5 separate regions of the Homo sapiens genome follow, and all the other regions are reported to be linked to region 1. The links are microRNA targets in miRTarBase. Many come from high-throughput screens and were not tested one by one. Region 1 holds a microRNA gene; each other region holds the end of a gene's coding sequence.
What was found. Region 1 holds the annotated microRNA hsa-miR-4441 (ACAGGGAGGAGAUUGUA, at 3,260-3,276, shown strand). A microRNA usually pairs through its seed, bases 2 to 8, with sites in the 3' UTR of a target mRNA and lowers its output. Matches are read on the target gene's strand: a 7mer-m8 pairs with bases 2 to 8, a 7mer-A1 pairs with bases 2 to 7 and ends in A, and an 8mer does both.

Region 2: the mRNA of ZNF3 is a reported target of hsa-miR-4441. Seed matches in the 3' UTR shown: 7mer-A1 at 1,065-1,071.
Region 3: miRTarBase lists ELL as a target of hsa-miR-4441. Seed matches in the 3' UTR shown: 7mer-m8 at 4,291-4,297 and 7mer-m8 at 4,230-4,236.
Region 4: miRTarBase lists CAMSAP2 as a target of hsa-miR-4441. Seed matches in the 3' UTR shown: 7mer-A1 at 3,077-3,083.
Region 5: the mRNA of ZNF496 is a reported target of hsa-miR-4441. Seed matches in the 3' UTR shown: 7mer-A1 at 1,576-1,582 and 7mer-m8 at 2,125-2,131.

Annotation. Positions count from the first base shown.
Region 1 is chr2:239,084,001-239,089,103 of GRCh38, reverse strand. MIR4441 (microRNA 4441) reads left to right here and starts at 3,178; the gene lies at 3,178-3,277. It overlaps HDAC4 (histone deacetylase 4), which reads left to right. Exons shown (of 27, transcript NM_001378414.1): 19 at 1,490-1,545; 20 at 4,862-4,949.
Region 2 is chr7:100,067,076-100,072,178 of GRCh38, reverse strand. It overlaps ZNF3 (zinc finger protein 3), which reads left to right. Exons shown (of 6, transcript NM_032924.5): 6 at 1-2,206. The coding sequence ends at 1,036. Among named protein-coding and RNA genes, the nearest start is that of ZNF3, 12 kb to the left of the region's middle.
Region 3 is chr19:18,440,279-18,445,378 of GRCh38, forward strand. It overlaps ELL (elongation factor for RNA polymerase II), which reads right to left. Exons shown (of 12, transcript NM_006532.4): 11 at 4,946-4,990; 12 at 2,385-4,590. The coding sequence ends at 4,474. Among named protein-coding and RNA genes, the nearest start is that of ISYNA1, 4.7 kb to the left of the region's middle. RefSeq lists enhancers at 400-519, 680-739 and a silencer at 1,533-1,582.
Region 4 is chr1:200,857,439-200,862,541 of GRCh38, reverse strand. It overlaps CAMSAP2 (calmodulin regulated spectrin associated protein family member 2), which reads right to left. Exons shown (of 17, transcript NM_203459.4): 17 at 1,838-4,788. The coding sequence ends at 4,483. Among named protein-coding and RNA genes, the nearest start is that of GPR25, 13 kb to the left of the region's middle.
Region 5 is chr1:247,295,954-247,301,056 of GRCh38, reverse strand. ZNF496 (zinc finger protein 496) reads left to right here. Exons shown (of 10, transcript NM_032752.3): 10 at 1-3,642. The coding sequence ends at 538. Among named protein-coding and RNA genes, the nearest start is that of ZNF496, 33 kb to the left of the region's middle. RefSeq lists enhancers at 336-1,234, 1,235-2,134.

The DNA of each region.
Region 1 (5,103 bases):
AGTGTCTTGAAAATTAGCTGCAGTGTGGATCTGAAATCAAATCGTGGCCTCCTCCCCCTCCGTTTTGTTTAACTGAACCATTAGCCCTTCTTGGAGATCAAATCGATCCTTCGTTCATGGGTGATTGGTAGCACCGTGCGTTGGTCATTTGGAAACTTAGCTTCACGGAGTTACATGGATCTTCCATATTCTGACCCATACAGTATCAAAAAAGTCATTAATTTTTGAAACCATTAATATCACCCCCATCTCACCAGAAGTCTTATAAGTAGTGAGAGAGCCAGCAGGCTCACAGGGGCAGAGCCGTGTGTTCCAAACTTGTAATTTTCACTGGAAAGCTCACAGTTTCTCACGCTTCCTTCCCGTCTCTTTACTCGGGATGTTAAAAGGACGTGTTTGAGGGCGGAGATCTACTAAAATGTCTGAATACTGCTTCATCGAGCACATTGTTAAGAGAAGCTGCTCACACACACACACACGCCCTGGTGCTGTTCCCTGCCCGCCGTCTACCCTCCGGTGCTTCAGCACCATCGGCGCAGGTGTCAGGGCAGTGAAAAGAGTACATAGAGCCTCAGGACTACGTGGACTACAGACCCTCAGCAGGGGTCGGGACCGAGGGGTCTGCAGCCTACACTCGGAAGCACTGAGTGCAGAAACGCAGGGAGGCCAGGGCCTCTTGAGAGCGTTTGCCGCCACCTCATGGGCTGCCCTCGCCCCTTCCTGAGCCTGGTCCCTGCGGCGTCCGGCTCACCCCGTCCATGGCATTGTCACTCATGGTTGGCCGGCACTTTTTTTGAGGCTTCATTACAGACCTTGACCACACAGTGTCCTGTTGCTGGTGAGACCAGGAGAGGACTGGAATCCATTTTTATGGCAGCAACTACAGAGTGGTTTGCAGATGGATTTTTGACGCAGAAGTGATGGGGCAGAGGACAGCGTTTCTGCCCAGTGTGAGAGGAGCTGTTTCGTGGGCTGCCCACTTGCCCGCCATCCTGAGAGCTGAACTGCAGTAAGGACAGAGGCAGTCACGTGAAGGCCAAGCTGGGACACAACGTCTCTGCCCCGCGGCCAAGTCCTTGAGTGGGGCCCCTTCTGCTTCATCTTCCTCCAGTGGCCACCTAGCGGGTCCTGGTCCCGAGCCGACGGGGAGTGAGCACATCCTTTCCACATCACCCCGACCCCTGAGCCAAGGGCACCACGCCTCACCGACAGTTCTGAGAGTGGGCAGGCACCCACCTGTTATCCTAGTGACTGCGTTTCGGGGGAACCATTAGTAGCCCCCAGACCTCTTTAGGAGAAGGGCCCAGGCTTCCCGGAAAGGCTCCCAGCTGGCCCTGCATCCTGTCCCCATCACTGTGGCCAGGGTGCAGCAAGAAACTGTCCTCCTGTGTAGCCCAACTCTGCTAAAAGTTGAGTGTGCAACCATTTTCCCGTGGCTACAAAGTGTGTCTTTTGTTGCTCTCTCCTGGCTGTCTGGTGTCACCTGCAGAATGGCTTTGCTGTGGTCCGCCCCCCTGGACACCATGCGGAGGAGAGCACGCCCATGTGAGTACACGCCGCAGCCCCGCACAGCAGGGGAACCCAGGTCTTCCTTCCCTCCCTTAGGGCTGGGTGGGTGTGTGAGTGACTGCGGGGAGCTGGGCTGCTGTTTGCTGGCCACCCAGGATGTGCCGCATGCCGGCTTGGCTCCAGCTCCTGGGTGTGGAGTGCAGATGCCAAAGTCTGCGAGCATCACTGCTCGGTTATGACGGAGACAGATCAGAGGAAAGGATGGGAAAGGGTCTGTGGAGGTTAGTCCAGAGAAGCCTCTGGTTGTTGAGTAGTTGTCAACACTTGGGAGAGGAAACACCACTCACCCTCAAGTGAGTCACTGCAGCACTTGCTTGTCTAGAGGACTCAGGTCATTTTGCGCATGGCCTTTTAGCTGCCTGCCGAATGCCTGGTACTGACGCAGCAAGCCACAGAGCCACGTCCATGCAGGCAGCTATCCTGATGCTGTTTCGGGTCTTTCAGAGACTGCCGACGGTCCATACAGCTGAGGATCTGGGCAGGGTGGCGAGTGTGGGGTGTGGGTCCTCCCGGATCCATCCCTGTGTGTCCAGAGCCAGTGGCAGGACAGACCCGCAGCTGTCTGTGGAGTGCCTTGCAGCCTGGGTGGTGAATGAATGATCTATCCCGTCAAAGAGCATGCTGTCTCCTGGGACGGTAGCCGCTCTAGTGAGGAGGGGTGGTGCTAGAAAGAGCGTCTCCCCATGCTCTGGAGATGGAGAAGGCGTGCCTGATCTTGCCAGCTTCGGTGAGGAGGAGGTGGCATAGGGCTCTGCCTTGGAGAGTTGGAGCAGCAGTTTGTCAGATGGCAACGCAAGAACAAGTGCAGATACAAGTTCACTATCAGGCTGTGGCCAGGAAGCAGTCAGAACAAGACAGAACCGCAGGGGCCCGGGAAAGGGCCTCCCTGTCACCCCTGGGAAGTCAGGCGTCCACGGAGGGGCCGGCAGGACGTGAGAGATAGTCAGATCCGCGTGTTAGAGCAGAATCTCCTTCACGTACAGGGAGGAGACTGTACGTGAGAGATAGTCAGATCCACATGTTAGAGCAGAGTCTCCTTCGTGTGCAGGGAAGAGATTGTACGTGAGAGACAGTCAGATCCGCGTGTTAGAGCAGATTCTCCTTCATGTACGGGGAGGAGACTGTACGTGAGAGATAGTCAGATCCGCGTGTTAGAGCAGATTCTCCTTCATGTACAGGGAGGAGACTGTACGTGCGAGATAGTCAGATCCGCGTGTTAGAGCAGAGTCTCCTTCGTGTACAGGGAAGAGACTACGTGCGAGATAGTCAGATCCGCGTGTTAGAGCAGAGTCTCCTTCATGTGCAGGGAGGAGACTGTACGTGAGAGATAGTCAGATCCGCGTGTTAGAGCAGAGTCTCCTTCGTGTACAGGGAAGAGACTGTACGTGCGAGATAGTCAGATCCGCGTGTTAGAGCAGAGTCTCCTTCGTGTACAGGGAAGAGACTACGTGCGAGATAGTCAGATCCGCGTGTTAGAGCAGAGTCTCCTTCATGTGCAGGGAGGAGACTGTACGTGAGAGATAGTCAGATCCGCGTGTTAGAGCAGAGTCTCCTTCGTGTACAGGGAAGAGACTGTACGTGCGAGATAGTCAGATCCGCGTGTTAGAGCAGAGTCTCCTTCGTGTACAGGGAGGAGACTGTACGTGAGAGATAGTCAGATCCGCATGTTAGAGCAGAGTCTCCTTCGTGTACAGGGAGGAGATTGTACGTGAGAGATAGTCAGATCCGCGTGTTAGAGCAGAGTCTCCTTCATGTACAGGGAGGAGATTGTACGTGAGAGATAGTCAGATCCGCGTGTTAGAGCAGAGTGTCCTTCGTGTACAGGGAGGAGATTGTAACCGCCAGGGAGGGATGCTTGTTGGAATCTTTGTAGCTTTACCTGAAAACCACGTGTTTGCTCCACATCCCAGAACAGTCACTTGGGCACCAGGCTTCCTGTTTGTTTCATTTCTCTGAAGTTTCTTTTCTAATTTGAACCTGAGTTGTTGGATATTCCAAATAATAAACCTCAGAGGAGACAAACGAATTGTGTTTTGTTGCAGCTCTTCGCTGTGCTCCCCGTGAGCCGCTGCAGGAGCTCAGCGTCTAGGATGTCCTGGGGCGTGTGGGCTTCCCCATGCCAGCCCGGATTCTGAAAACAAAACAACTAGTGTTTCTCCGTTTCTGTGGTCATTCGGACAAAGGGAATTTGAGATCAAGAAGGTTTTCGTTGTTATTTGAATCACTTTCATAGCTTGTTTTCTTGGTCTCTTGAGTAAGACTCTCTAAAATTAAAGGTAATTTATGTATTGGAATATAGGAAGGTCAGCAGGAAGCAACTGAGATGAACGGCTGCCATGTCTCCTGGGGCGTGGCGGCAGCTCCTGAGAGGAAGGGTTCCAGGTGAAGATGAGGGAAATGTTGGTAACATGTGAAATAGGGTTCCCTACCAGAGGAGCGTGGGGGACCTCCAAGCAGGAGAGTGTGTGTGTGTGTGTGTGTGTGTGTGTGTGTCTGTCTGTCTCAGTATGGAACTGTGGATGTGTGTGATAGGTATATGCTTATGTGTATATGTGTGTGTGTGCTTGTATGTGTCTGTGGTTTGTGTGTGTGTGAGTGTTTCTGTATGGGGTGTTCATGTGTATCTGTGCATGTGTGTCTACGTGGGGGGGGTGGGTATGGGCGTATCTGTGGGGCATATATGTGTGTAGGGCGTTTGCATGGTGTGTGTGTCTCTATCTGTGGGGTGTGGGGTGTGTGTGGGGTGTGTGTCTGTGTGGAGTGTGTGTGGGGTGTGTGTCTGTGGTGTATGGGCGTATCTGTGGGGCATGTATGTGTGTAGGGCGTGTTGCATGGTGTGTGTGTCTGTGTGGGAGGGTGTGTCTCTGTGGTGTGTGTGTCTGTGTGGGGTGTACGTGTGTCTCTGTCTGTGGTGTGTGTGTCTGTGGGGGGTGTGTGTGTGTCTCTGTCTGTGGTGTGTGTGTCTGTGTGGGGTGTGTGCATGTCCGTGTCGGTTAGCCGACCCTATGGCATTGGCTAAGATTCCCCAGTGGCTTGTTTGGGAGCTGTGTGTGTGTGTGTGTGTGTGTGCGCGCGCACGCGTGTGAGTGTGTCTGCATGTGGGGTGTGTACGTGTCTGTCTGTTAACCGATTCTCCGGCATCACTGAGGGTTCCCTGCGACGTATTCAGGAGCTCTGCACTCACAGAGACCTCTTAGGTCTGCGTGGACCCCGAGTGGCTCTCTGGCGGGCCGTGGAGAAACTGGCCACCGCCCACCTGCGCTTCGTCTCCAGCGTCAGTTCTCTCCCGCAGGGGCTTTTGCTACTTCAACTCCGTGGCCGTGGCAGCCAAGCTTCTGCAGCAGAGGTTGAGCGTGAGCAAGATCCTCATCGTGGACTGGGTAAGCAGAGCCGCCTTGGCCAGCGCAGCTCAGGTTGCTCCTTTGCCGTCCCCGAGCGGACAGCAGCGTGTGGACAGAGGAGCTGGGCTCTTGGATGTGGGAAGCTTAGGTTTCTGGAAACGGTCTCAAAGATGCGGAGAAGTAAAGCCCCAAA
Region 2 (5,103 bases), not on the chromosome of region 1:
TTCTGAAGACACAAGATCACATGGGGTCCTACTGGGAAGATTTCAAAAGGATATTTCTCAGGGTCTCAAGTTTAAAGAAGCCTATGAACGAGAAGTCAGTCTGAAAAGGCCGCTGGGGAACTCCCCTGGAGAAAGACTGAACAGGAAAATGCCAGATTTTGGTCAAGTGACAGTTGAGGAGAAGCTAACCCCCAGGGGAGAGAGAAGCGAGAAATATAATGATTTTGGGAACAGCTTCACTGTGAATTCCAACCTTATCTCACATCAGAGACTCCCCGTGGGAGACAGACCCCATAAGTGTGATGAATGTAGCAAGAGCTTTAATCGAACTTCAGACCTTATTCAACATCAGAGAATCCACACTGGGGAAAAGCCCTATGAATGTAATGAGTGTGGGAAGGCCTTCAGCCAGAGCTCACACCTTATTCAGCATCAGAGAATCCACACTGGGGAAAAACCTTATGAATGTAGTGATTGTGGGAAAACCTTCAGCTGTAGCTCTGCCCTCATTCTGCATCGGAGGATCCACACGGGGGAGAAACCCTATGAATGTAATGAGTGTGGGAAGACCTTCAGCTGGAGCTCCACCCTCACCCACCATCAGAGAATCCACACTGGTGAGAAACCCTACGCCTGCAATGAATGTGGGAAGGCCTTCAGCAGGAGCTCAACCCTTATTCACCATCAGAGAATCCACACTGGAGAAAAACCCTATGAATGTAATGAATGTGGGAAAGCCTTCAGCCAGAGCTCACACCTCTATCAGCACCAGAGAATCCACACTGGAGAGAAGCCCTACGAATGTATGGAATGTGGAGGAAAGTTTACCTACAGTTCAGGCCTTATTCAGCATCAAAGAATCCACACCGGGGAGAACCCCTATGAATGTAGTGAGTGTGGGAAAGCCTTCAGGTACAGCTCGGCTCTTGTTCGCCATCAGAGAATTCACACTGGAGAGAAGCCTTTGAATGGGATCGGCATGAGCAAAAGCTCCCTCAGAGTTACGACCGAGTTAAATATCAGAGAGTCCACGTGAAAGAGCCACACACCCATTTTCCTCACTTTCCCTGAGTCTCAAGAGCTCTTGCCTTACCCTATAAATCTCAACAGCTTAGGATGTGTCCCTTTCAACTCAGACTTTTCATTTTAGAGAATGGGGCAGATGGGGCAAATCGTTGAATTTTCCCAGAAATCACACCAGCCTTAGAAAGCGTCAAGGCAAGTGGATGGCGTGCTGGGAATAGAAAGCAGCTCTGGGACCAGTTACCCCATTTAGGAAAGGAGTTTGCACTAAACTGTTTTTCTCACAGCAGAGGAACCTTTCCAAGGTGGGGATGGAAGCACAGTCGGGACAGAATTCGATGGATTCCTTTAGTTGGAGTCCGCGTAGTCAGCACAGACAGCAGTGGAAAGGACGCTCTGGGTCCTGTTATTTGCTAGGGAGGGTAAAGGGAGACTATTTCAAAGCTACTGTTCCTAGTCCAGCTTTAAGTTTCGGTAAGAAACATGCTGTTTTGTTTCATGATTTCGTTAATTATGGAAATTTGGCATTGAGGGATTATTTTATTGAGGGTAGAAGAGATTCCAGAATCATCATCTGTGATGATGGTGTCCTTTAGGGCTCTTGGAGCAGCCAGACCATGTTTCCAAGAGAAACCTGGTGATATTGCCAGCAGACCCCCTGCCATCCCCCCCAGTTGTCCTGGGGCTGAATGGGCAAATCTGTCCAAACAGCTAGTAACCGGCTGTGAGGGAGAGGGTCAGAAGCACTTAGCGTTGGCCTCTGATTGCTGTCCTCTCTTGTCCTCTTCCCACTCCAATGATGAAAATGATTTTCTCTAAATGCCTGGGTAAGGATGCTTTCAAGGAGCTCACTTGGCCTGCTTGCCCTGCCCTCTCACCTCTGACACCCAGCCCCAGGAGCCAGACCACTCCTGCCTCCACCTCTGACTCTTCAGCAGCTGAAGATTAATGCAGAGAAAGAGCAAAGCCCAAAAGGGAGAAAAAAAAAACAAAAAAACAAAAAAACGAAGCCCAGAGAAGGCAGGCTGTGCCTGAGCCTGGTAGCAGAGCTCGTTGCTGGGTGAGGATGGCACTCCCCGAGTTTTCCCAACCGACGGGATGACCTTCCATTGTGTTTTCCCAACCCTGCTCATCCTGTAGCATAAATGAAGTGCACTATTAAACAGAATAGTTTTTCAGAAGAGATTGAGTGTGGTTTTGTGCAATGTTTGGACCATATATTTCAGTTAAAACAAGACATGTTGGCTGGGTGCAGTGGCTCATGCCTGTAATCCCAGCACTCTGGGAGGCCAAGGCAGGCAGATCACCTGAGGTCTGGAGTTCTAGACCAGCCTGACCAACATGGAGAAACCCCGTCTCTACTAAAAACACAAAATTAGCCGGGCATGGTGGCACATGCCTATAATCCTAGCTACTCAGGAGGCTGAGCCAGGAGAACTACTTGAACCCGGGAGGCGCAGGTTGTGGTGAGCTGAGATCGCGCCATTGAACTCCAGCCTGGGCAAGAAAAGCGAAACTCCATCTCAAAAAAAAAAGACAAGACATGTTGGTAACTATAAATGGAATTTGAAAGTTGACTTAATTTTTTTTTTTTTTTTTTTTTTGAGACAGAGTCTAGCACTGTTGCTCAGGCAGGAATGCAGTGGCACCATCTTGGCTCACTGCTGCCTCTGCCTCCCGGGTTCAAGCACTTCCCGTGCCTCAGTCTCTAGAGTAGCTGGGACTACAGGTGTGCACCACCACGCCCCAGCTAATTTTTGTATTTTTAGTAGAGATGGGGTTTCACCATGTTGCCCAGGCTGGTCTTAAACTGAGCTCTAGCAATCTGCCGGCCTCAGCCTCAAAGTGCTGGGATTATAGGCGTGAGCCACCATGCCTGGCCCTAAAATTTCTTTATAGGCTAGGTACAGTGGCTCATGCTTATAATCCCAACACTTAGGGAGGCCAAGGCAGTAGAATCTCTTCAGACCAGCCTAGGCAACGTGGCAAGACCCTATCTCTACAACAAAATTAAAAAAAAAAAATTAGGGCTGAGCGCAGTGGCTCACAGTTGTAATCCTAGCACTTTGGGAGGCCGAGGTGGGCGGATCACAAGGTCAGGAGTTCGAGACCAGCCTGACCAACATGGTGAAATGCTCTCTCTCCTAAAAAAAAAAAAATTATATATATATATCAGCCAGGTGTGGTGGCACGTGCCTGTAATCCCAGCTACTCAGGAGACTGAGGGAGGAGAATCGCTTAAATGCAGGTGGCAGTGGTTGCGGTGAACCAAGATTGCTCCATTGTACTCCAGCCTGGGCAACAGAGTGAGACTCCATCTCAAAAAAAAAATTAGCTGGGTGTGGTGGTGCACACTTGTGGTCCCAGCTACTCGGGAGGCTGAGGTGAGAGGACTGCTTGAGCCTAGGAAGTTGAGCCTGCAGTGAGCCCCTGTGATTGCACCACCACACGATAACAGAGCAAGACAGTCTCAAAAATGAAATGAAATTACTTTATAGATTGCCATTTTTTTTTTTTGAGATGGAGTCTTGCTCTTGCCCAGGCTGGAGTGCAGTGGACCAATCTCGGCTCACTGCAACCTCAGCCTCACTAGTATCTGAGATTACAGGCGCCCACCACCACGCCCAGCTAACTTTTGTATTTTTAATAGACAACGGGATTTCACCATGTTGGCCAGGCTGGTCTTGAACTCCTGACCTCATGATCTGCCTGCCTCGGCCTCCGAAAGTGCTGGGATTACAAGCATGTGCCACTACGCCCAGCCTATGCAAATAAATTTTAAATCTGTGTTCTCATGGCTGTAATCCCAGCACTTTGGGAGGCCAAGGCGGGCGGATCACGAGGTGAGAGTTTGAGACTAGCCTGGCCAACACGGTAAAACTCTGTCTCTACTAAAAATAGAAAAATTAGGCTTGGTGGCACATGCCTGTAATCCCAGCTACTCGGGAGGCTGAGGCAGGAGAATCACTTGAACCCAGGAGGCAGAGGTTGCAGTGAGCTGAGATAATGCTGCTGCACTCCAGCCTGGGTGACAGAGCGAGACTGTCTCGAAGAAGAAGAAAAAAACCTGCCCATGTCCTGATGGCTCTCCCAAGCCTCAGTCGTGGGTCTCCAGTGGACTGCAGAGCAGTTACACCTGGACTTTCTACAGTTTCATAGTATGTTTCAAACCAGATCCCACTTTCCCATTTATTGCCCCCTCTTAAAATTTCTGTAAACCTGTCAGGATCAAAATTTTGTAAGTTTTCTTTGATTATACTCCTCATCCTCCTCCATCTAACCAGCATCAAGCCTGGGCAGGTTCAGTAAAGATGGAGTGGAATGATACTGTTTTCAGAGTTGAGATTGTAGAGGAGATGGGATTTGCAAGTGATGGTAGCAGTAGCTGATACATGGCATATACTCTGTGTCAGCGTTGCCTGGCTCTTTTCCGAGTGGTTTTCATGTATTAATCAGCTGGGTGCAGTGGCTCACGCCTGTAATCTCAGCACTCTGGGAGGGTAAGGCAGGAGAATCGCTTGAACTCAGGAGTTCAAGCCCAGCCTGGGCAACATAGTGAGACCCAGTCTCTACAAAAATAAAAATTAGCTGGGCGTGGTGGCACACATCTGTAGTCCCAGCTACTCAGGAAGCTGAGATGGGAGGACTGCTTGAGCCCAGGAGTTGGAAACTAGCCTAGGCAATATAATGAGACCCCTGTCTCTCTGAAAAGAAAAAAATCCAATACTTGGCGAGGAATGATGGCCTACAGTAAATGAGGTAGAGCTGCTAAAATGATGAGCAGAGAAAGGGTGTCAGCAGACTCAGCGTGTGTTAAAATGAATTTCTTACACGAGATCTGAGAACCAAACACCTATGTTATCTCGGAAGGCCCAAATAGCTTCCCGTTCACTCAGACAATAAAGGATGAAGTGAGGGGAGCACCGGGATTGTTCAGTGACAGCTGCCTCAGCAGGGTTAATAGTAGGAGATTCTGCCACAGAACAGAGTTCCCTGTTATTAATGGGATGACTGGTCAACAGAGGCCAGGCGGCAGCACTGAGCTATCACAGGCAAAGTGGACACAATTACCATGATGGG
Region 3 (5,100 bases), not on the chromosome of region 1:
TCTGTGAGCTGTTCCAGCAATTATCAAACCTGAAGTGGGGTCATGGGAACTCGCAATTTATTAGCCTGCTTGCCAGAAGTATAGGTGGCATCTGACACAGGTGCAGCCCTGTGGGACTGACCCCCATAACTTGTGGAGTCCGATACCATCTCTGGGAATGGAACTGTTGGACATCCTGTAGGTACTGGAGGATCAGAGAATCGGGGAGTTTGTGCCTCGAGGCGACACGTGATTCAGGAACCTGTGTAGTTGAGAGACATGAGGAAGGTCCCAAGACCCAGCCCCGGGGAGCCTGTGTTCACAGGGCCACCTGTAGAGGGTGCCGGAGGATGGGAGCTGGCACAGGGCAGCTGGAGGGAATCGGCATAGAGGCTGGGCTGCTTCCACTCCCAGCAGTTGACAAGGCCGAAGGAGGGGGTTTGGCCCCTACAGTCAGGCCTGGGTGTGCTGAAGTCGGTGGTGAGATGCACTGTTATTCCCCAGCAAAGTGTGGGCTCCCTGAAGGCAGGGATGAGGCTGAGTCACTGCTGTGTTGCAGAGCCCAGGTGGAGCTTGGTACAGGAGGGGGCTGCAGGAACAGGGGTGCCCGTTGAAAGAGGACAATTGGGGCCCCTGGCAGGTGGCAGGAGAGGGTTTAACAGCTCTGAGCCCCTCTCTACCAGGGTGCCCAGGTCATGAGGGTGGGAAGGCTCTCCTGAATATCCGGGGCACTAGACTGATGGCATCCATGGCTCAGGAAGGTCAGGGGACTGACTGTGGCCTCTGCAGGCTGCGGGGGTGATGGCCAGAGTATTGCTGGGCAGTTGGCTTAGGGCTGGCGTTGGAGGGCCGGGGGAGGCAGGACCGTGAGCTGCAGGAGGTTGGTGTTGGCCCTGGGATGTTGGGACAGAGATGTTATCCTGGGAGAACAGCGTGGCCAGGCTATGCTGGGAGCAGGGTACACGCTGCCCCACTGGGCTGCATGACTTCCCCTCCCGCGCCCCTCAGATTCCTGGGTGGCCTTAGAACTTGGGCCAAGGCCACGGACGGGCAGGGAGGCCAGGCCCCCCCCACAGCTGCAGGCCCAGGACCTTTGCCCACGGTCCTATTCTTCGGTGTTATCGCTTACTAAATGCACCCCTTCTTGTCCTTGGCTGGCAGGTTGAGTGTTATGTTCTCCATGGCCCCTGGCTCGTTCCACCTGCACCACCGCCGCTCCCGTCAGGCCTTTTCCCCATCCCCACTAGTGGCACAGGGGATGCCCCTGCCCCAGTGTGGGAAGAACAGGTAATATTACCGTTACCTGCTGCTGCTTTCATCAGAGGGAGACAGTCACAGCTGGTTTCCCCCACCCCCAGCCCCACTCCTGTAGCCTTTGGTGCCACAGGGGGCCAAGGAATCCCAATGCTGGGTTCAGCCCACCCTATCCACACCAGAGGGTACTGCTGTGCTCACACACCTGCTATGGCTCCCTATCCCTCCGCCCTGACCCAGCCTGCCCCCACCCCCGCGCTCCCCGTCACCTACAGGGCCCTCTGATTTGGTCCTTTCTCAGGCAACGGCTCAGGTAGGCTGCAAACTCTGCCTTCTTATCTGGTCCCAGCCAGAGCCCCTGAACAACCCTTTCTCATCATTATGGCGGCCCCAGGTCACATCACCTCCTGATGCCAGCCCACCCCCAACCACAGGACAGGGACAGCCACCACAGAAACCAGGCTGTGACACACCCACACACTACACACACACCCACACCCCAACACACACCACACACCCAACACACACACCCCCAACACACACCACACCCTCACACCACACACACACCTACACACCCCAACACACACCACACACCACCCAACACACACCACACCCTCACACCCCAACACACACCACACATCCGGTCAACACACACCAACACACACCACACCCACACCAACACACCCCAACACACACCACACCCACACACCCCAACACACACCCACCCTCAACACATCCCCAACACACCACACACACCCCACACCACACACCCCAACACACACCACACCCTCATACCACACACCCAGATACACCACATCCACACACCACACCCCAACACACACCCACATCCCAACACATACCACATCCCAACAAACACCACATCCTCACCACACACATCCCCAACACACACCACACACCCCACACCCCAACACACACCACACACAACACACCCACACATACAACACACACACCCTAACACATCACACACACTACACACCCACACACAACATCCAACACACACCGACACAGATATACTACACACCCACACACCCCAACACACACCACACACACATACACACCATACACCACACACACAGATACACCAACACCCACACACCACACACACCAGCCAGGCAGCCTGGGCTGCCAGGTTCAGTTCAGTGAAATTTATTGGAGAATGAAAAAAGTCAGCATTCACCTGTTTAGTGTACAAAAAGGACACTAGATCTTTTAAGAAAATATCAGGAAACTGAAGACGCAGATAGATGCCTTTCAATTGTAACATTTTGGCAAAAGTGGAAAGTTCTTGTAAACACCAACCCCATGGCTCAAAATAGTTTTTCTCCACAGTACAACATTAAAAGAAAAAAAAATAGTATCAATAAGTTAGACCATATTTAATCAGCTAGAACTTTGTCCACCAACCCCCAAAACACAAAACTTTTCTTAGCTTCATAATTCCTTAAAAGGAGAACAAATAAACAACAAAAACAACAACAACAACAAAAAGGCAAATTCAACTGACAGCCCCTTGGACTGGTTCCCAGGGCAGAGGGGCGGGCAGTCCCGGGCTGGGACCTCCTGAAATCATCCCACCTCACCGGTGTCTGCAGGGCTGCCTGCGGGCGACACAGCAAGGTCCAGCTGACTCTGGAGGCCTCCTGGAGCCTGCTCGGCCCTTCCCCGGCCCGGCCCGGCCCAAAGAGAAAAACAACAACAGCTATTGAAACATGAAGGATCAGTTTCCTCGGAGCTCTGGGAACCCGGGGGTCCCAAAGGAGAGAGACTCTCGGGCAGGGGTGGGATACACTGTGGGCCCTCCACAGTCAGCTCTTTGGAAGCTGTCAGGAGGCACCCCTCCACCCCCCAGTTTAGAAAAATAGACATCTGTATTTTTGCATTTCTGTTCTCCCTGCCTGACTGCTGATGGCAGCAGTGACCCCCATGTGATCCCTGGGCCCTGAGTCACAGCCGCCATCCACCCCCCACCACCTTTCCAAGTCATGGCTTCATTCAGCCCTAAATGGGAACACACGCCTCAGACCCCACCATGCCCTGGGGGGTCCCCACATACGCACACTCACACACCCACACTTGCGTGGCCCCCCGATGCTTTGGGGGACACTAGACTAGGCACAGCAACAGAGCAGCAATTGGGGTGTCTGCAGAGCCTGCACCCCCAGAGCAGGCAGACCCATCCTCCTGGCTCCCCAGCTCTGCCCATGGGTCCCTGGGGCCTCCCTGACCCCATGGCGCCCAGCCCTCCATCAGCCCCTCCCTGAGTGCAAACCTTGGCGGTGGCTCTGCTAAGACGACCCCAGGACCCACAAGTGGACAGAGGGACGGAGGGAGGCCAGCAGCATCGAGACCACAAGGTCTCAACAGTGTGGAATGAGCAGCAGCAGCAACAAATGGGAAACCGAGGACATCGCAAAGAAAAGTCTGACGCCGCTGCGGCCGAGTCTCAACTTGGAGCACAGAAACACAGTGGCCCCCGACAGCTGAGGGCCTGAAATAGCAGGGCAGGCCTGGGGGCGCTGAAAGCCCTCTGCCCCCTTGGCTCTGAGCAGCTGTCTGGGGGCACCAGCTGGAGTTCTCAAAATAGCCACCTGGGCCACCCTGTTTGCTTGCTGGAGCAGAGACCCTGCCCAAGGAGGAGAGGCTGGGGAAAGGGGTGCCTAAACGTAGAGCCAGAGACCAGCAGAGGCCACCTGCCCATTCCCCACGCCCTCAGAACGCAGCTGCACCTTTCGACGACCTCTGTAATACTGCAGGCAGGACCCAGGGCAGCGGCTAGACCCTGGGTGTCCGAGGAGAGGGAGGCACAGGTTTAGAAAAAAGATTTTGCTTCTCTTTTGTACAAAAATAGACTCAAGTCTCATTAGCAGTAGCTAAAAGTGGCTGTCTTTGTATAAAACTAGAAAAGGCAGGCGCGCCACCCCAAGGGCCTAGGAGTCTTCTGGCGAGACAGGAGGCTGAACCCCGGAGGCTGCAGCCAGGGAGGAGGCAGTGGGCTTCCTGGGGAGCCCATCATAAGCAGGGACTGCTCAGGAAGCGCAGGGAGGGCCGAGGTGGGCTTGCAGCCACCCGCCAGGGCCAGACGTCTGCAGGGGCTGCCCTGAAAGCCGGCGGTGCTGGCTCAGATGAGCATCTTCCTCGGGTTTATTTTTTTAAATAAATCCTCTCTCACCGCCTTTTGCTCCCCCGACCCTCCCAGATCCCCGCCATCGGGGAGGGCGGCTAGGGCCAAGCCTGCAGCTGCCGCTGGTCGTACTCGGCGATGAGCCTCTTGATGTGGGCCAGCTTGCTGTGCAGGTACTCGCAGCGGTGCTTCTCCTGGCTGTAGTTGGTGTTGGTCTGTGGGACAGCACAGTCATGCTCAGGACAGAGCCGCCCTGGGTGCTGCTCCCCGCTGTAAGCAGGCCAGTGTCCCCCCCAAACCAAAAACCTGGGCTTGGTGCCCAGCAAGGAGGGTTGTGGTCCAAGGGCAGAGTGGGAGTTGGTCCCCCGCACCTCCACAGCTTGTGTGGCTGGGCCAGGATGCCACAGCTGAAGACTTAGCTGGGGGTGGTGGGGCAACTTTGGCCTCAGACTCAAAGGCTCTTCCCCCACACCTTGGAAGTAGCGGGCAGGGAGGCTGCCCCGGGCCCACCCTCCTCCCTCCAGCTCCCATGGCTCACTTGGAGCCCACCCCAACACAAGAGACACTCACCTTTTTGATTTTTCGATATTCCTGCAAAATCTGCCCTCGAGTAGTCTAGAAGAAAAACAAAATTTTGAGAAAACAGAATGTGTCCCCGCCTACAGGAAACCCAAATTGAGTGGTCCCAGGTGCTCTGAGAAGGGGGCATGGGAGGGTGGGGCAGC
Region 4 (5,103 bases), not on the chromosome of region 1:
TGTTGTGACACATATCACCACAGTGATTTAAACACATGTACAAAACTAATCTGTGTTGTCTAAGCATGTGGCCTTGAGTTGCTAGAAGACCTACATGCCCACAGGGGCAAAAAGGAAGTGACTGAAACTAGATTCTAGATCTCCTTATTTGAAGAGCAACTCTGACATACCAATCTGTGTACTTCCCCCACCCCCATCAAATTAGGCAAAATCATTAATATCTCATTTGTTTCTTTTGAGAAGATACCTATTTCTTAAGCATCTATATACTTCTAAGGGACGACAGAATTTCACACTCATTTTATAGATGTGTTTCTCCAATAGCCAATTCCTAGGTCATAACATTACAGCTACATTTCCTTTGCTGAATTTTATTATCATCTTTCTGTGTAGACAGATCATGAAATAAAGGTGTTTGTTCCTATTCACTACAGAATATTTTCCTCTGCCCTAGTTAAGAAGTATCAATTTCAGTCATAAGGCAACACATTCTTATTGTGTGGGGGCTCTAGGGTTTGTGTACACTTTTTTTTTTTTTTTTTTTTTTTTTGAGACACAGCCTCACTCTGTCACCCAGGCTGGACTGCAGAGGTGCGATCTTGGCTCACAGCAACCTCCGCCTCCTGGGTTCAAGCAATTTTTCTGCCTCATGTTCCTGAGTACCTGGGATTACAGGCGTATGCCACCATGCCTGGCTAATTTTTATTTTTTAGTAGAGACAGGGTTTCGCCGTGTTGGCCAGGCTGGTCTCAAAACTCCTGACCTCAAGTGATCTGCCTGCCTTGGCCTCCCGAAGTGCTGGGATTATAGGCATGAGCCACCACCATACCTGGCATTGTGTACATTTTTCTAATGTTGCCTGGGTCTTAGGGTTTTTTTTTTTTTTTTTTTTGAGACGGAGTCTCGCTCTGTCGCCCAGGCTGGAGTGCAGTGGTGCAATCTCGGCTCACTGCAAGCTCTGCCTCCCGGGTTCATGCCATTCTCCTGTCTCAGCCTCCCAAGTAGCTGTGACTACAGGTGCCCGCTACCAGGCCTGGCTAATTTTTTTTGTATTTTTAGTAGAGACGGGGTTTCACCATGTTAGCCAGGATGGTCTCGATCCCCTGACCTCGTGATCCGCCCACTTCGGCCTCCCAAAGTGCTGGGATTACAGGCGTGAGCCACCGCGCCCGGCCGGGTTAAATATTTTTATTTCTGAAAATTAAAGTACTGGAAATATTGTGGAAATATAGCTGTGCTCTGAAGTTACAGAACCTATCAAAAAGGTCCCAAGCTAGAAAACCACATTTATGTCTACTAACCAGATATTTCTTCAGGTATATAATTAGGCATGACGATTATTTTATAGTTTTGTTATCAGATCTCTTTTTTCTTAAAAAACACCTTTTTCTTTACTCTGTTCTGAGTAAGTAGAATCAGCAAAATCAAAGTGAAACTTACAAAATAATGGTCAAGAACTAGCTTCTCATGGCTACTCCAGATCAGTGAGTTCACTGGCCATTCAGTTTCAAAGACATAGAGCACTAGTTCTGGTACAATATAACTATCAATTCACCAAAAGATAGTGAATTAGTATGAGCAAGATTAACATAAGATAAGCACATTTATAAATCATACTATGTAGACCGTCTGTGCTAAGCATAGAAAGTTACCGACTTTTTAACATTGCCCTAAGTTAGTATTTTTAAAAGGCTAATTATTTCAAGTTGCCTGTTATGAATATTCAAGTTATTAAATTTAAACATAGGTTAGGGGATAGAAAAACTGTATGAGTTATCTCAAGTTCAAATAATTTTACCAAAAACTACATTTTATTCAAGAAACAGAAAAGGAGTCATTTGGTGCCATGCTTTTATTCAAATGAAAGGGGAAAAACTACACTGTACCAGGAAATAGCAAGTATGACAGTATTTTACAGCACAGCATCTTAAAAAACAAAAAACCTGTAAGCAATGCTCTAGAGTGGACAGGTAAGCACACCATACACTGTACATTGCTCAACAGTGTCCATGAAACCATAATTAAATAGCTGAATTTGGCTTTAAACAGCCAAATAAAACTGTAACAGTCATTCTAATACAAAACGGAAAAACCAAGAACTAAATCTTTCCAAAGCTGTGTCAAATAGCAGAATTTGACAGGCTGCACTGGTAACCACGACAAATGTTTGGCAAACTTAATGGAATAGTTATCATAATAATTTGACCTCTGATGATGAAAGCACCAGTGTGTTTCAGTAAGGTTGACGAAAATCCTCAGACTTTATGAAATGGCATATTTTTCAACTGTATAATTTTAAAAACATAATTAAAAAAAAGCTGCACCATAATAAAAAAATCTGCAGACTTAAAGAAATATATCCATATTCCTTCTGCATTAATAAAGTAAAATCTTATACTGAGAGCAATGAACTCTGTGGCAATATTCACATTCTACCTTTAGACCTTATAGACATTCAATTCAACTGTTGGACACACACAAATTTAAGAATAAAGGGTGGTCCTGTTTAGTTTTAAAGTTTCTCCATTGTCTTGCATCCAATTTTCTTTATTTAATAGCGAAGTAATATCACAAAGATTGCTTTGATGAGGGAAATTTAGTTAATATTGAAATGAACAAATTTAGTAACGTAAAATGCTTATTAAATTATCCTTTTGACTACTATTCACATTTTGATTAGATTCATTTATAATTTTTTAAACTAGTTTTAATCTAAACGTGTATTTGACTATCATTTCCTTCTAACTGTGATAGAAATTACTGTCCAAAAGGTAAAATGTGCAATTCCCCATTTTTAATATCCATATGTTATATACACAATATGTATACACTTAAAATATAAGAGTTACATATCCTGGTCTCTTACATGCAAACAGTAGATCACAAATAGTTTTGAGCTACACATGTATCTTGCACAGGTATTGGAAAAAAATCTGTGAAATTTTTTTACAGTTTTAACAAATATACATAAATATAAGAACATAAATTACAGTAAAATATTGACAGCATTTGAGAAAATGTTGATAACCCAGATGCACTGATGCCTAAAGGCCTTATAATAATAGAAAAGTACAGCTCAGGGACATCTCATTCCTATTCTTTTTTTTAAAATAAGTAAATACATCATATGAGACATTAGTTCTTTCTCTAAACAACTCAATTAGAGAAATGTATATATTTTTATCTCTACTTCCCATGAAAGAAAACAAACTACGCATCTCATTTATGATACAATACTGTCTTCCCCCGCTAGTTTACACATTTGTCACAACACTGAAATATAACAGGGTCACATAATCATTCAAGTCTTTTCCTGAGAATGAAGTTTTTCCCCAACTAACCCTCTGGTATACACTGTTAAAGAACAAAGATCATGTAGAGGAGATTTCAAGTGTATACTTATTCTAAGCCATTCCACTTGAAAAGGATTAAAATGAAGAAAAACCCAATATAAGTAAAATAATGTGAAGCTATTTTAAAATTAAAATGTAGCCCTTTGTACATGTTTAAAAATTCTAAATATAATTTTTATATGAGTTATAAATATAATGTAAAGACTTCTTGAGAACTTGTTTCAGGAAGTCTTACATCTTCAGATTGAAAGACTACTCTCAAAGTGTCATTCACTTCTGCCAACTTATAAAGTGACTTACTTTAAAAGAGATAGAAAGCCTTTTTTGTTAAAAGAACAATCTAAATTATTCTGAGTTGGCCAGAAGTGGTGTAAAAACAGCACTGATTTAATCAGCAACTTCTCATAACATATTCTTGGTTAAGCTCATGTGGTTTAAAGCGAACCTACTAGCAGCTCTTTACAACACCTCCTCTTATTTAATAGAGAATGTTAATACTTGAGTGAATAATAAATAGAGTTGTAAATACTTAGCAGAATAATTTTTGCAAATGCTGTAACACCATTAAAATATGAGGGTTACTGTAAAACTAAACACTAGTGTTTCTCTTAACATCATAAGAAAGGTGCGAGTTACTTCTAAAGGTATATTTCCTACTTTCATGATCTCCACATGAAATAAAATACAAAGGTATCTTAGAATAAACCCCCAGGAGAGAAAAATAGCAAACCATCTGAAGACAAGAATATACATTAAAAGGTTAAAAAAAAGCAACAAATAAAACACATAATTTGTAATCTTAACCATATTTCAATGATAAATCCAACTAATATCCATGAAAATTCAGTGCTTTAATGTATCTAATATCAAGCAGGTGAACCTGATAACACATACAAATCTCCATTTGTGAATTAAAACATTTCCTTCATCATTTGGACTTATCACTTAATTGAGAATGTTCTGCACTCCAAAATACTGTGGTTTACATTCCAGTTGTTCATGACAACAGAGCTTAATGTCCAGTTTTAATTAATAAAAGTCTTGTTGGCAATTAGAAAGATTTTCTATAGGCAGGAAAGATGAAGTGCAAATTTACCATGAATGTTCTGAAGCAAGTATTTCCCAACTTCTATGCCTTAGTGGGTAAAAGTTTTTTGGGTGTTACTGGTCTTTTGGTCTGCCATAAATGGCTATGAATGGTAATTGCATCAACACTGGCAGATAAAGTTTTAGCGGGTATGTGGCTAAACTGTTTCCTGTCAGAATTATATTTGTAAAGTCCTTCAATCATTTTTTTAGTGATAGATTTAGGGCCTATCCCAGTCAGTTTATTGATTTCTTCAGTTTCTGGGCAATAAGTGTATAAAGATCTGAACTGGCATCCTGAATCCCGGAACAAGATTAAGAAGTTGTTGGCATCTGATTTCTCCATTTCCTTTAAAATAAAAAACAAAAACAACATAACAACACGAATAAAAACCCTTTATTTTGCTGAATAAAGTTTATATAATTATGTTACGTTTCTTAGTCACATTTTATAACATTATTTCAATGACAAATCTTAAAGCCTATTGCTAGTCTTTAATAAAATCTGCAGGCTTCCAGAACCTAATGTGAAAATAAACTAAATCTGATAATTAAAACATCTAGCTACAGATCTTTTTACATGCTGTTGAAAGTCTAGGCCCATGAGAGTACATTCTCTTGAATGGATAAAAGACTTCTACAGTTTGCCAAATTTAATTTTCAT
Region 5 (5,103 bases), not on the chromosome of region 1:
GAACTGTGGGAAAATCTTCCGCTGGAGGGTCAACTTCATCCGGCATCTGCGGAGCCGCAGGGAGCAGGAGAAGCCGCACGAGTGCTCGGTGTGCGGGGAGCTGTTCAGCGACAGCGAGGACCTGGATGGGCACCTAGAGAGCCACGAGGCCCAGAAGCCTTACCGGTGTGGTGCCTGCGGGAAGAGCTTCCGCCTGAACTCCCACCTGCTCTCCCACCGGCGGATACACCTGCAGCCGGACAGACTCCAGCCGGTGGAGAAGAGAGAGCAGGCGGCATCCGAGGACGCGGACAAGGGTCCCAAAGAGCCGCTGGAAAACGGCAAGGCCAAACTGAGCTTCCAGTGCTGTGAGTGTGGGAAGGCCTTCCAGCGGCACGACCACCTGGCTCGGCACCGCAGCCACTTTCACCTGAAGGACAAAGCCCGGCCCTTCCAGTGCCGGTACTGCGTCAAGAGCTTCACGCAGAACTATGACCTCCTCCGCCACGAGCGCCTGCACATGAAGCGCCGTTCCAAGCAGGCTCTGAACTCCTACTGAGCCTCTCCGCCTGGGGCGGCCTCACCCTGGCTGGTGCTGCCCCCTCACCTTGGTACTGATCAGCGCCCCCACCCAGGACATACCTTCCCCAGGATAGAGAGCACACCTCCCTCCTGTCCTTGCTCTCAGGTAGTGAGCGTTCGGGTGGTGCCATGGGAGCACTCTCCCTCCCCCAGGTAATGAAAGAGTGGCCAAGTGAGTGTTCTGTTTCTGCTGTGCCAAAAAACGGGGGGGATGTGCCATCACCAGGTTGGACATGCCAGGTGTTCTGCGTCTTAGAGACCCTTGGCCCATGCTCCCCAAGCTCGGGGAGTAAAACTGGGCTATCCCCCGTCAGGGCGGCACCCTGGTCACCAGCCAAACCTCAGTATACTCCCTCCCCTCCTTCCCTGTCTGAACGCTAGGATCTGCTCCTGAAGCTCCAGGATGCCTGCACTTCCACTGAGAAGCTGCTGGCGGATGTTGGACTAGAGGAAAGAAGAAGGCAGGGTGGGACTGATGGGCTCAGTGGGGAGCAGGGCCAGGCACACTGAGCCAGACATGTCATGTCTGAGCCCCAGATTCGTGGCCATCAGGTAGGCAGGAGCACCCCGCAGATCCAAGATGATCAGGCAGCCCTTTTGGGCTGGCCTCTGTGGCAGGGGTCTGCAGAGCTCCTTCTTGAGGTTTGGAAACAGTCGTCATACCTGTTGATTTTCCTGGGGGCCAATCACTAGGGATCTGGAGCTCACCAAAAACAAAGCTTACATTTTAATTTGTGTTGCACACCTACCCCATAATGTCTTTATACCCCAAAGATCCTTGGTAAATGCTTGTGGGTTGGAAGCGGAGTTGTCATCGTTTAAAAGGCACTTAAGTCCCTTCTTCCAATCTGTCCTGTCTAGGAATGTGGAGCTCTGCCCCCAGTGAGGGGTTCTCCTGTCTGGGTGAGCCAAGCTCCAGAACAGAACCTTGCCTGACAACACACTTGATAGATACATTAGCTTGGAGTGCTGGTGTGTCCAAACACTGGCTGGCTTAGAACAACAGGAGTGTATTCCCTGACAGTTCTGGGAGGTGCACGTCCAAGATCAGGGTGTCCTCAGAGTTGGTGCCTTCCGAGAGCTGTGAGGGAGAAGCGGCTTCATGCCTTTGCTGGCAGTTGCCATTCCTTGGTGTGTGGAAGCGTCACCCAGTCTCTGCCTTCATCTCCACATGGCACTCTTGCTGTGTGCGTGTCTGTCTCCAAACCTCCCTTTGTTTAAGGACACCAGTCATATCGGATTAGAGCCCATCCCACCGACTCCAGTATAACCTCATCTGTATCCGCAGCAACCGTTTACCAATAAGGTCACATTCTGAGGTACTAGAGGTTGGGACTTCAACATCGGAATTTGAAAGGGACAGCATTCAGCCCATGACTCCAGATAAACGTGAGGTATGCTATATCATTCCTAATTTACAGATGAGTCAATACAAACTTGAGTGAGCTTGCTCACAATTCCATCAAAGGCAGGGTTCAGACCCAAGTTTCAGCATTTAGGGCAGGTGTCCTCTGCATGGAAGAATCATACTCAATAGCCGTAAACGCTGACAAATTCCCCTTCCTCCCTGCCTTCTGATGGGGGCTGGGCAGGCCAGCTGGAGCTGTGTCTCCTGCTGGGATTCCGGACTGAGAGTGACAGCAGGTAGTGAAACCTCAAGCAATTTAAAACATGGTATTGTTCCTGGAAGACTGGTTATGTTGGCTAGGGTCAGCAAGAGAGGGCATCAAGGCTGTAGTCTAGCAGTGATTTAATCTGCAAGTCAAACCAGACGGGTATTTTGTATTATTCATATGTCACATCCTACCAACAGACAGTAAGTCAGGCAAGGCTCCTGGTGCTCCTTGTCACTCACGTAATTTTCACATCAGGAAAACTCTGGGCTGGGTGCAGTGGCTCACACCTGTAATCCTAGCACTTTGGGAAACCAAGGTGGGTGGATTGCCTAGCTCAGTGACACCAGCCTGGGCCACATGGCAAAACCCCGTCTGTACCAAAAATGCAAAAAATTAGCTGGGTGTGGTGTTGACGTTTGCGGTCCCAGCTACTCTGGAGGCTGAGGTGGGAGGATTGCTTGAGTCTGGGAGGCAGAAGTTGCAGTAAGCCGAGATCATGCCACTGCACAAGCTAGGTGACAGAATGAGACTCTGTCTCAAAAATAATTAAAAAGCCTCTGCCCCAAACTCGTTAAAAGATTTTATAACCACAACTGCTGTTTCTGTGTAGATGCATCTGCATGCCCAGGAGCAGTAAATGCAATAAAATCATTTGGTTATACTTTGAACACAAAATAAACGGTTGAGGCTTTTACTTTCTAAATAGTTTGTCTCTTGTATCAACATAGCTGGAAAAGGGAGAAATCCGATTTTTAAGGCCAAGGGAGGGGAAAATTCCAAGTAGAAGCCAGGCTCTCTGTACACGTTTACCCCACCTACCTGTGTGCTCCTACCTGTGCTGAGGATTCTCTCTGTAGCTCTAAGGTCTTGGGAAGGTTATTCACCTTCCTGCTTCAGACGTCTGACTCAAGAGAAGAACACTGTTCTACTTACCAGAGTGTTTTTCTGTGTAAAACCACATCATGAAGGAGAAAGCGACAAAGGGAATGTGAGGGGCTGGAAGCCACAGGGAGGCTGTCTCTTGAGTCCCCACCACTGATCCAGAGCCAACCAAGGCACCTCAGGAAATGGAAGGCCACATTGCCTCTGGATTTGGAAATCCTCCTGGGTAATGTAACTGAAACCCAGGTTGATGCCATGCAGCAGGAGCAGCAGGGGGAACGTGCTCTCAGGAGAGGTCGGCCAACCCTCCAGCCCAACACCCTTCACCACAGTGGTGGAGGAGGCTGCACCCAGGAGATCTTTGTCTCCCTTTTGGCCACTGATACCTTTGGCCTTATCTGACAACAGCTACCCCTCGATCCTTCCCTCCCACCCCAGGGGCTGGGCAGCTGGCTGGAGCTTTGTGTCCACCTTGCTCTGGAGGTTGAGACCCCCATCTGAGCAACATCCTCTCTCTTTGTTCCTCTGATCCCTTGGCATCGTCACAAACCCACAGGTGCATAATAAAAACTTGCTGAGTCAATATTCCTGTTAGGCTTTTCATTTTCATTTAAAAAGTAAAATGTGGCTGGGCGTGGCAGCTCATTCCTGTAATCCCAGCACTTTGGGAGGCCGAGGCAGAAGGATTGCTTGAGGTCAGGAGTTTGAGACCAGCCTGAGCAATATAGTGAGACCCCATCTCTAAGAAAAAAATAGAACAATTAGCCTGCCATGGTGGCACATGCCTGTAGCTATTTTGGGGGCTGAGGTGGGGGAAGATCCCTTGAACCCAGGAGACAGAGGTTGCTGTGAACGGTGGAGGTTGCTATGAACGGTGGAGCGCCACTGCACTCCAGCCTGGGTGACAGAGCAAGACTTCATCTCAAAAAACAAAAAGTAAAATGTGAAGCACAGCCAAAACATGTTTTCTAAGACCTGCAGGCTTTAGATAGTTCTGGTCACCTGATCTGGCCCCTCCCCAAAAGAAAGAAGAAGAAATAACTGTTTCATACGCTGGGAGTAGATTGTACTCCTGGTCACACCACAGCTTTAAGCCAACCTTAGTCGTTTTTCTCTTTTCTCTATCTCCCCAACTCTTGCCTCAGCTAGAAGAAGAAACAAATAAAAAAAGATGAGGCCATTGGTGGGAGGGTCCCTATCAGTCCTAAATCATACTGTGGCACAAAGGAAAGAGAAGGCCAGCTTTGAAGCCTGTGGAGATCTTGTCCAAGTCACTCTTCTCCTGTGAGATGGTTTCCCTTCCTCTGCCAAAAGCAGAGTTTGGATCAGATAGAAGTAATTCTGCTTGCAGAGTTACGTAGACGATTCAGCGATGATTATAGCACTTCAGCAATTCCATCAAATAAGCCCACTTTTTTTTCACCCCCCTAAAGACGGGCTCTCACTATTTTGCCCATGCTGGTCTCAGACTCCTGAGCTTCTCCCACCATGGCCTCCCAAAGTGCTGGGATTATAAGTCTGAGCCACCACACCCAGCCTCCAGACACACTTAGTATTAGCAACAAACACTGATACTGTTTGGTCTTGAAAGTGACGGTCAGTGCCCACTACTAGTCCATGCAACAAGGCTAGAGGTTAGAAAACTTGCTTAGGGCAGACTGGCCACAGGAAAGGGACTGTTGAAGGGACCACTGGAAGACCAGGTACCTCTAGCAGCCCAGACCCATGTATAGGGCAGCTGATAGAGTGCCAGTGGCCCAGCATCTGGGGGGTGGTTAGTAGTGATCATGAGCTCAACAGGGGCAAAGCCCAGGGGGTCCATCTGTACCTGTTTTGCCCATCAGATACCAATTGGGAACTTTATCTTCTCTTGAAACCATAGCCTGTAACCAGGTCACCATGATTAATGTGCATATAATTAGCAAAGTACAGAGAAGCCATAGAAATTCCCTGTGAGAAGATGCAAAACTCAGTGTGGGAAAGCAGAGTCCTCAGGAATACACGGAAGTGGGAGGAACCCGGGGCTTACCTCACACATCTTGGC